Regions from separate parts of the Homo sapiens genome. Here all the other regions are linked to region 1. The links come from fine-mapping of genetic effects on plasma protein levels. A gene starts in region 1. Each other region holds a variant in brackets. All regions are shown on one strand. Distances are from middle to middle. Region 1 holds the start of SFRP4 (secreted frizzled related protein 4). Region 2 overlaps EPDR1 (ependymin related 1). Region 3 has its middle 66 kb from the start of EPDR1.

The links. A credible set is the group of variants that fine-mapping cannot tell apart. PIP is the posterior inclusion probability: the model's chance that the variant is causal. Protein levels are from antibody-based Olink assays in UK Biobank. Linkage for the fine-mapping came from a reference panel and not from the study's own genotypes, which makes the PIPs less certain.
Region 2: its variant is the best candidate, but not a certain one, in a credible set for the plasma level of the SFRP4 protein (UK Biobank, PIP 0.51).
Region 3: its variant is the best candidate, but not a certain one, in a credible set for the plasma level of the SFRP4 protein (UK Biobank, PIP 0.67).

The regions. Positions count from the first base shown.
Region 1 is chr7:37,915,813-37,918,576 of GRCh38, reverse strand. SFRP4 (secreted frizzled related protein 4) reads left to right here and starts at 1,760. Exons shown (of 6, transcript NM_003014.4): 1 at 1,760-2,484. The coding sequence starts at 2,040.
Region 2 is chr7:37,931,296-37,934,059 of GRCh38, reverse strand. All of the region lies in intron 1 of EPDR1 (ependymin related 1), which reads right to left. Among named protein-coding and RNA genes, the nearest start is that of EPDR1, 12 kb to the right of the region's middle. The variant A/T (reference allele first, on the strand shown) is at 1,272.
Region 3 is chr7:37,985,293-37,988,056 of GRCh38, reverse strand. No RefSeq gene overlaps it. Among named protein-coding and RNA genes, the nearest start is that of EPDR1, 66 kb to the right of the region's middle. RefSeq lists a silencer at 3-203 and an enhancer at 419-1,171. The variant A/T (reference allele first, on the strand shown) is at 1,503.

The DNA.
Region 1 (2,764 bases):
TGGTACTTACATAGTTAAACAGATGCAGCAGGTTCAAACTGGCTGCAGAAATTTGAGCCCTCTCCGAGTTTGCCCTGCTCAGATTCATAGGAAAAGTGTAGGGTAGTTCAGCTCTTTCTCTTGCTCCCCAGGTAGGAACTCCAGCTGAAAATCTTTTTCACCCAGTGAAGGGTTTAGACTCATTGGAGTTTACTGCTAGAAATGGCTTGAGATGTCATCTGGGCTTTCCTCCTCATGTGATATTTTACTAGCCTGGCTTGGCATCTTTGGAGGTGGAGACTGGTTCTATAGGAACTAGATTACCTTTCTAGAGTGGCTTGGCAGTGTAAGAACACCCTGGGCTTCCCCTAAATAAGAACCAGACTCTTTGGATGAATCCTGAAATGTATTTGTCTCATTTATCCTTTTCACTTACTATGTTTAATTCATGTTCCCTAAAAAATAAGATAATGCATTTAAAGTTCTTAGCTTCATACCTTGACCATTGTAAATTCCCAATAGATGTCACTTGTGCTTGTTGTTTCCTCAGCTGTTTTAATCCTTAGTCTTTAGTTTTAATCCTCAGTCAAAACTAAACTAATTGTGTAGGTTTAAGCTTTGGAGAGAAAAACCATGTGCCTTAAATTCAAGTTAAACTATGTTTTTAAAGATTAACATTCAGAGAACATGTTTCCATATTGCTGATGCCCTAATAAATAGCATATACCAGAAGTCTTACCACCTGAAGATTGATATACATCAATCTCATATAAATAAATCCTCCCTTTTCTGTAGATAGCTGAGCCAGCAATTGGACTACCTTTTCCTAATGCAAGTAAGATAAAAGAGAAAGCAAAACATACATACTTGCATCCCATAGTACACAGCTTCTTACTCAACTCAAGCAACAGTCTCTGAGCACATCAAAAATCAAGATTTTAGGCTGCTGAGGTGGAAATCCTTTGGCATGAAGGATCAGAGCAGGGGAGACCTTTCAGATTGTGGTGCCCAATGTTTTCTCCTGGGTTCCACTAATGCTGCAGAGGGGAACAGGGAGTTAGAAGGAAGAGGAAATGTTAGAAGACATTTCTGAAGCTGGAAGATGCTAGCACACCTTCCCCCAGTTCTGTTAACTTCCTGGAGCAGAAACAAACCAAGTGTTATACTGGAAAAATTTCGGCCCAAACTGTCTACTAGCAACAACAACAACAAACCACACTCCACACAACTAAGGGCGGAGTGGGAGTGATTTATACAACGTGACCCTCCTGTTCTGACATTCACTGCACTCTCGCCTGCCTTGCAGGACATTGTCCCAACTGTCCTCAGCGCTCCTCATGCCCCCTACCGGAGAAAGCAAATATATTTCAGAATTAGAGGGCAGCAGAAGCTCCTATTTTCCCCCAACTCTATACTTGGAAAAACTCTAAGGCAGAGGGAGCAAAGTTCAGTTTTCAGCCAAAGAGTGTCTTTCTCTCTCTTGAAATTCTCTCCCGCACCCTCTTGTATCCGGTGTCGAAAACAACTGCCAGAGGTTCTTTTTCTTGGTCCGAAGAAAAAAGACTGGCCAGACTAAAAAGGAGGGACTTTAGGGGGAAAGCAGGCTTCCAGCCCTGGGCTGCGGCCCAGAGGGGGTGATGTCACCGCTTCTGCACCGACGGGCCTGGGGGTGGGGCGGCCGAGGGGGAGCCCGCGCCGCGGCTGCAGCTGCCAAGGGAGCGTTCCGAGCCCACGTCAGGGGAGGTGTCGGGATAAATAGGGTCCCGCAATGGCCGTGGCTGGCTGCGCTCCGAGCTGCGGAGTCCGGGACTGGAGCTGCCCGGGCGGGTTCGCGCCCCGAAGGCTGAGAGCTGGCGCTGCTCGTGCCCTGTGTGCCAGACGGCGGAGCTCCGCGGCCGGACCCCGCGGCCCCGCTTTGCTGCCGACTGGAGTTTGGGGGAAGAAACTCTCCTGCGCCCCAGAGGATTTCTTCCTCGGCGAAGGGACAGCGAAAGATGAGGGTGGCAGGAAGAGAAGGGCGCTTTCTGTCTGCCGGGGTCGCAGCGCGAGAGGGCAGTGCCATGTTCCTCTCCATCCTAGTGGCGCTGTGCCTGTGGCTGCACCTGGCGCTGGGCGTGCGCGGCGCGCCCTGCGAGGCGGTGCGCATCCCTATGTGCCGGCACATGCCCTGGAACATCACGCGGATGCCCAACCACCTGCACCACAGCACGCAGGAGAACGCCATCCTGGCCATCGAGCAGTACGAGGAGCTGGTGGACGTGAACTGCAGCGCCGTGCTGCGCTTCTTCCTCTGTGCCATGTACGCGCCCATTTGCACCCTGGAGTTCCTGCACGACCCTATCAAGCCGTGCAAGTCGGTGTGCCAACGCGCGCGCGACGACTGCGAGCCCCTCATGAAGATGTACAACCACAGCTGGCCCGAAAGCCTGGCCTGCGACGAGCTGCCTGTCTATGACCGTGGCGTGTGCATCTCGCCTGAAGCCATCGTCACGGACCTCCCGGAGGGTGAGGCCGTAGGAAGGATGGAGGGAGGCGAGGAGGCGCCCGGGGCTGTGGCTGCCAATCGAGAACTGGGCGGCCACACCTAAGGCTGCCAGGGGCGTCTGAGGCTTGTAGGAGGTGGGAAAGAATGGGGGAAACATTTTCTTCAGAAAAAGTCTGGTTTCTCCCATAGGAATTTTAGGAGCTAGCGGAGAGCACTGCACCCCATAAAGAAAAAAAAAAAGATTTTGCTTACAAAGGGAGCCTTCGATGATGTTTGCATTTATAGTAATAACAGAAATGA
Region 2 (2,764 bases), 15 kb before region 1:
GCTTGTAGTGAGCTGAGATCACGCCACTGCACTCCAGCCTAGGTGACAGAGCGAGACTCCGTCTCAAAAAAAAAAAAAAAAAAGAATGGCAGAATAAGTGGATGCAGATAAGCCTGGGGTCTTGATGAAACTGTTGAATCAGACCTAGGAACATGTATCCCAAGAATTCTGGAGTAAACAACGAATATTCTTATATTTTAGCATTTGCTAGTCAGATTTTCTGACACTTATAGCTGTAAATATCCTTAATGAAATGAATAAAAACCACTCCTTTATGGATAACATCTACTCAATTCATTACAAAATCTCTATGAGAGCCTTCCCTCTCAGAATGAGCAGGGCCCAAATATTTGACTAATCCTAGAACCCCAAATACCGGAGCTTGGCCTGGGTATAGGTGAACCTGAGCAGCTACTGCCTTAACAGTCAAGAGACAAGTGTTTTTCTGTCACAATTTGGAGTAGTCAGGAAAAAAAGAACACATCCAAAGCAGAGGTTACAGACTGGCAAATTCAGCTGGTTGAACATGTTATTAGCATTTTTATTTTTTTAACAGATGAGAAAATATGAGGCTCACAGCATAACTTCGTAGTTAAGTACGGGATCAACCAGACTCATTCTAACTCTTAAACACCATGTGCCTTCTCGCTCTCAACAGGGGGAAGGAGTGATTCTTCCCATCCATGTAGAACTGCTCAGCCATCCAAGATATATTAAATTACAGAAAAGGGAGTAGACAAATATTATATTGTGATTACAAAAGGACTTTGGCTTTTATGGAAAAAATTGAACAAACTTTGGATTTGTTTAATACGCACTATAATAGATTAGTAATGCATGCCGGCCATCTGACTCTCAAGAGGAAGAATTGAGCCGCGGCCACTTGCCATGCTGGCGTATACTAAGTTTGAGTTACACCCTGCAATGATTATGAGACATAAAAAAGAAAAAACACTATTTCAAAATTGTGTTAGATACAAACTCATTGTGCGCATTGTTGCCAATCACATATAACAAAAGGAAAATTAAATTACTTAAGAATGCAGCCTGAGGAAAAGCAAAATCAAAGAATAATTATGTTTGCCATTTAAGAAGCTGTAAGGTGATGGGCCTCCATGACTTGGATTCCAGTTCAAAAGATGAAAAAAGTGCTTGAGAAATTGAAGAGCTTTTTTTCCCAAAATATATCTGGATGAATATTGGCAATGTGTAGGCAAATACTCTTTCATCTGATGAAAGATAATAAAAAATTTCTCATGAGACAGTAGTGC[A/T]GGCTGAGTTTTGTTTCACCACCACAAAAAGAAATAGCATCATTAGTACTGAGATATCCAGGTTGCCATGGTGCTCAGTGGCTTCTAAAACGACATAGCAGGGGATGTCCTCTAAGAAGGATGGGAAGGACAGTGCAGGGTCAGCATGATGCCATTTAGCAGAAATAGATCAATTCCCACCATGTTGAAATATAAACTCACGCAAACCCTTCCAGCTAACATTTAATGAAACTCTGAAATATAAATCTTATTTTTTATTTTCACTGGGATTTGGGATAGACTGTGTTTACAATTGAAAAGGAATAATGTGTGACCACAAGGATAGCTTTCTGATGAAAAATATCATTATCAAAATAAAAAATAGTAGCAAGGGCCTGTGGTCCCAGATACTTGGGAGGCCGAGGTAAGCAGGCCACTTGAGCCCAGGAGTTTGAGGCCAGCTTGGGCAACATAGTGAGATGTCATCTCTAAATAAATGAGTAAATAAATTTTAAAAATTTAGAAATTAAAAATGCAGTCATGGCTTTGTAAAGCAGATTGACTATGGCAAAAACAACAACAACAACAAAAACCACCTCACAGGCAGTGACTTAGAGGGTATTATTGTAGAATTCAGAGGGGAAAAAAACATATTAAGTGATGAAAAGGCTAAAGCAAAGAAGACATTTGGAAGACAGATGTAATGTAAGAGAACCAGAACAGATAAGCAGAAAGAGATTCTGTAAGGAACCAACAAAAAAGCAGAGTATCAAACCTCCAGAAATACTAGAGGAAAGTTCCCGACCGGGCGCGGTGGCTCACGCGTGTAATCCCAGCACTTTGGGAGGCCAAGGTGGGCAGATCACGAGGTCAGGAGATCGAGACCATCCTGGCTAACACAGTGAAACCCTTTCTCTACTACAAAAAATAAATAAATAAATAAATTAGGCGGGTGCAGTGGTGTGCACCTGTAGTCCCAGCTACTCGGGAGGCTAAGGCAGGAGAATCACTTGAACCCAGGAGGTGGAGGTTGCAGTGAGCCGAGATTGTGCCACTTCACTCCAGCCTGGGTGACAATGTGAGACTCTGTCTCAAAAAACAAAAACAAAAACAAAACAAAGTGAAACAAAAACAAAGTTCCCCTAAAACTACACCTTACCTGGAGATGTTAATAAAATTCAAGGATAATAGAAACAACCTACAAAAACATGGGCAGAAAAAAAATTATTGAAACGAAACCAAATTTAGTTTGGTGTCAGACTTCTCTTTTTTTTATTTTTTTTATTTATTTATTTTTTTATGGAGTCTTGCTCTATCACCCAGGCTGAAGTGCAGTGGCGCAATCTCAGGTCACTGCAGCCTCTGCCTCCCAGGTTCCAGCAATTCTCCTGCCTCAGCCTCCTGGGTAGCTGGGATTACAGGCGCATGCCACCATGCCTGGCTAATTTTTGTATTTTTAGTAGAGATGGGGTTTCACCATGGTGGCCAGGCTGGTCTCAAACTCCTGACCTCAG
Region 3 (2,764 bases), 69 kb before region 1:
TAAAGGTCCCAGAACAATTGTAAGTTTCCCCTTCGATGAACAAGATCACATTCCAGTTTCTGTTTGCACAGTCATATCTGTGGTTCCTCATTAGTGTGAAAAGCCAGAACTGCCTGTTCTAGGGAGTGGCAGTGGGAAGGGAAATGAAATGGTATATATGGAGTGAAGCAAAACTGTAAGGGCCATGACTGAGTGGCTGTAAAGAACAAAGTCAGATGTGGTGACAGTATGCCTAGCAGAGAGAAAAAAATAAGTGCACTGTTATTAGAAGAAGAAAACTGGGAAGAGACCTTTGTGTGAAGACAAACTCCAGGAGAAATATAGTTGAGAAAAAGAGAGTTGTGAGCTTTGGGAACTATAATTACTTAAGACAAAATCAGATGTGTGAAATATGGGATGCAGTGGTGCACCAACATTTGACAATTTGTGATACGATTGGAGGACAAGAACACAGGCCATTGTGGGTATAGCTAAAAGGAATACTTCTCATTCTCATGCCATCTCCTGTGCCAGTTACCATGAATTTAGTGGGGCAAATTGATTTTTTGAAACCTACCTTTAAAAAGATTTTTAAAAAAAGCTCTGAATCTTTTAAATTTTGCTGGTTTAGACATGATTTTTTAAAGGTAGGGTTGTCCTCATTGAGGATTTGCCTCTTTGATGACAAATGTCTTCTTAAGGAGATGTTAGTTCAGTGATGTTGTTTCAGCATTCAGGCCAACAAAGGCAGTTGAAGAGGAATGCATGCCGGGTGTCCTAGAGTTCAGCAAAAAAGGACTTGCTCTAGGGGAGGAATTATGAACAAGAGGCTCCAGCTGAGCTAGAAGATGGTGCCCAGCAGGAGGGAAGTGGAACAGACAGATTCCTGCTCTTTTAGAGCTTCAACGATGAAGTCTATTGTTCTGTGGTTTGAGGAACACTCATCATTCACCATAGCTGGTTGACATCATTTACTAAGTTGAATCAAGTACAAAAGGAAAAAGTTCTTTATGATAGGCCAGATTCCATGAGTGGGAATTCCTTGGAGTGAAACAGGGAGAAAATACGCCCCAGTGTTAAAGACTTTCCAGAGATTTTTTCCATTCCACTTTCCACCCCTCCCTAAATCACTCGCCAAAGAAATGCTTTGCTGGACACTAAAGTGGCCACAGCTGTGCTCATAAGAAAACATCAGAATATAAAATTAATCGTTGTATTTTTTAGTTAACCTTTTTGGAGTGTGTGTGCAGGGTTAAAGGACAGGTGCTATTAAGATGATAGACATCTTTGAAATGTTTGGAAGTACTGCCAGTTTCTATGACCAAAAGCTTTCCAAACAGCTGTAATTATTTGAAGGTCAATGAACTAAAAGTTTCCCTGTATTAGCTTTAGGCAAAAAGGTCATTAATGCTTTAGGGGACTGTAATAAATCTGAAAGAAGCTGGCTTGACCCTCCCCTTCTGCAGTTCTCTATCTGATCACCCTGAGATCCTTTTCAACTCCAGCTTCCTGGGAGGCCAGAG[A/T]TGAGCCAGTGACTGACTCCTTGACCAGCCACACAGGGCCTAGAGTTGTACCCTACCTGGATTGGCGAGGTCTTCCATGACTTATGTAGCCTCATCCTCAGATGAGGACCACCACCCAATCCCCTCAAAAAGCCTGAAATCAGTCTTCTATGCTAGGTGTGAAAAAAAGAGAGGTAATTACACTGTTTTATTCCATCAGTGTTTGAAAAAAGTGCACAACTTCTATGCAGGCATCCCAAAGCATCTAGGATTGCAGGGATGGATAGAAAGTCCTTCAATCACAACAGAATTCCTATTTGGCTCTTTAAAAAAGGAGACAGGACAGGCTGACAGATGCTACGGTGCTTAGACCCACATGTTGTCCACAAAATTGGGATTATCCTCTAATTCTAAAGGTATAGCTTTGGTGACCGTTTTGCCATTGGTGCCATCTCTCAGGAACCTGATAATAAACTACAATGTTTTAAACTTGTACTATATCCAGGAGCTATGTAGATATATAAAATATTTTCTTATTTAAATTCCACATGTGTACAATGTAGGTATTATTTTCATTGCACCAATATGATAGATGAGACAATAATTTTCTCAAAGACACTCAATTAAGTTGGCTGACTGCAAAGAGTTTTAGGCAATAAGATTTACATTCTTTACCTTTAGCTTATCATCTTCCAAAGATGATGCTTTAATCATTGTCAGCTGGTTATTGATCATATTGTTCTTTGAGCCCATCCCCATGGGATTTGAAAAATCTGCTTCTAAGCATATCTGGAACTTTTTTACATTTTCCTTTTTTTTTTTTTAAGATGGAAGTCTCCACTATGCTGCCCAGGCTGGAGTGCCATGGTTATTCACAGGAGTGATCGTAGAGCATTATAGCTTCAAACTCCTGGCCTCAAGAGATCCTCCTGCCTCAGCATCCTGAGTACAGCGTACAGGCATGTGCTACCATGCCCAGCCATATCCTGAGGTTTTCACTTACAATAACTGAAGCTCTTACCTTGCCACCTCAGGCCATCTACTAAAAAGGCATAGATATTATTTCAGGGAAAGAAATGCCTGGCTGCAAATATTTTCCTTCAACTGACTTGATAGTTCTGTTAGTGTCTTCCAAGCATAGTTTTCAATTCAGGGCTCATGCAATACTCTTTATCTATTGTGTCTTTGTTTTCAATAGTAATAATATATGAACTTAGAATAAATATGCTCTTCTTTTAAGAATTTACAATTGTGTGTGAATACAAAGACTGCAAAATATATTA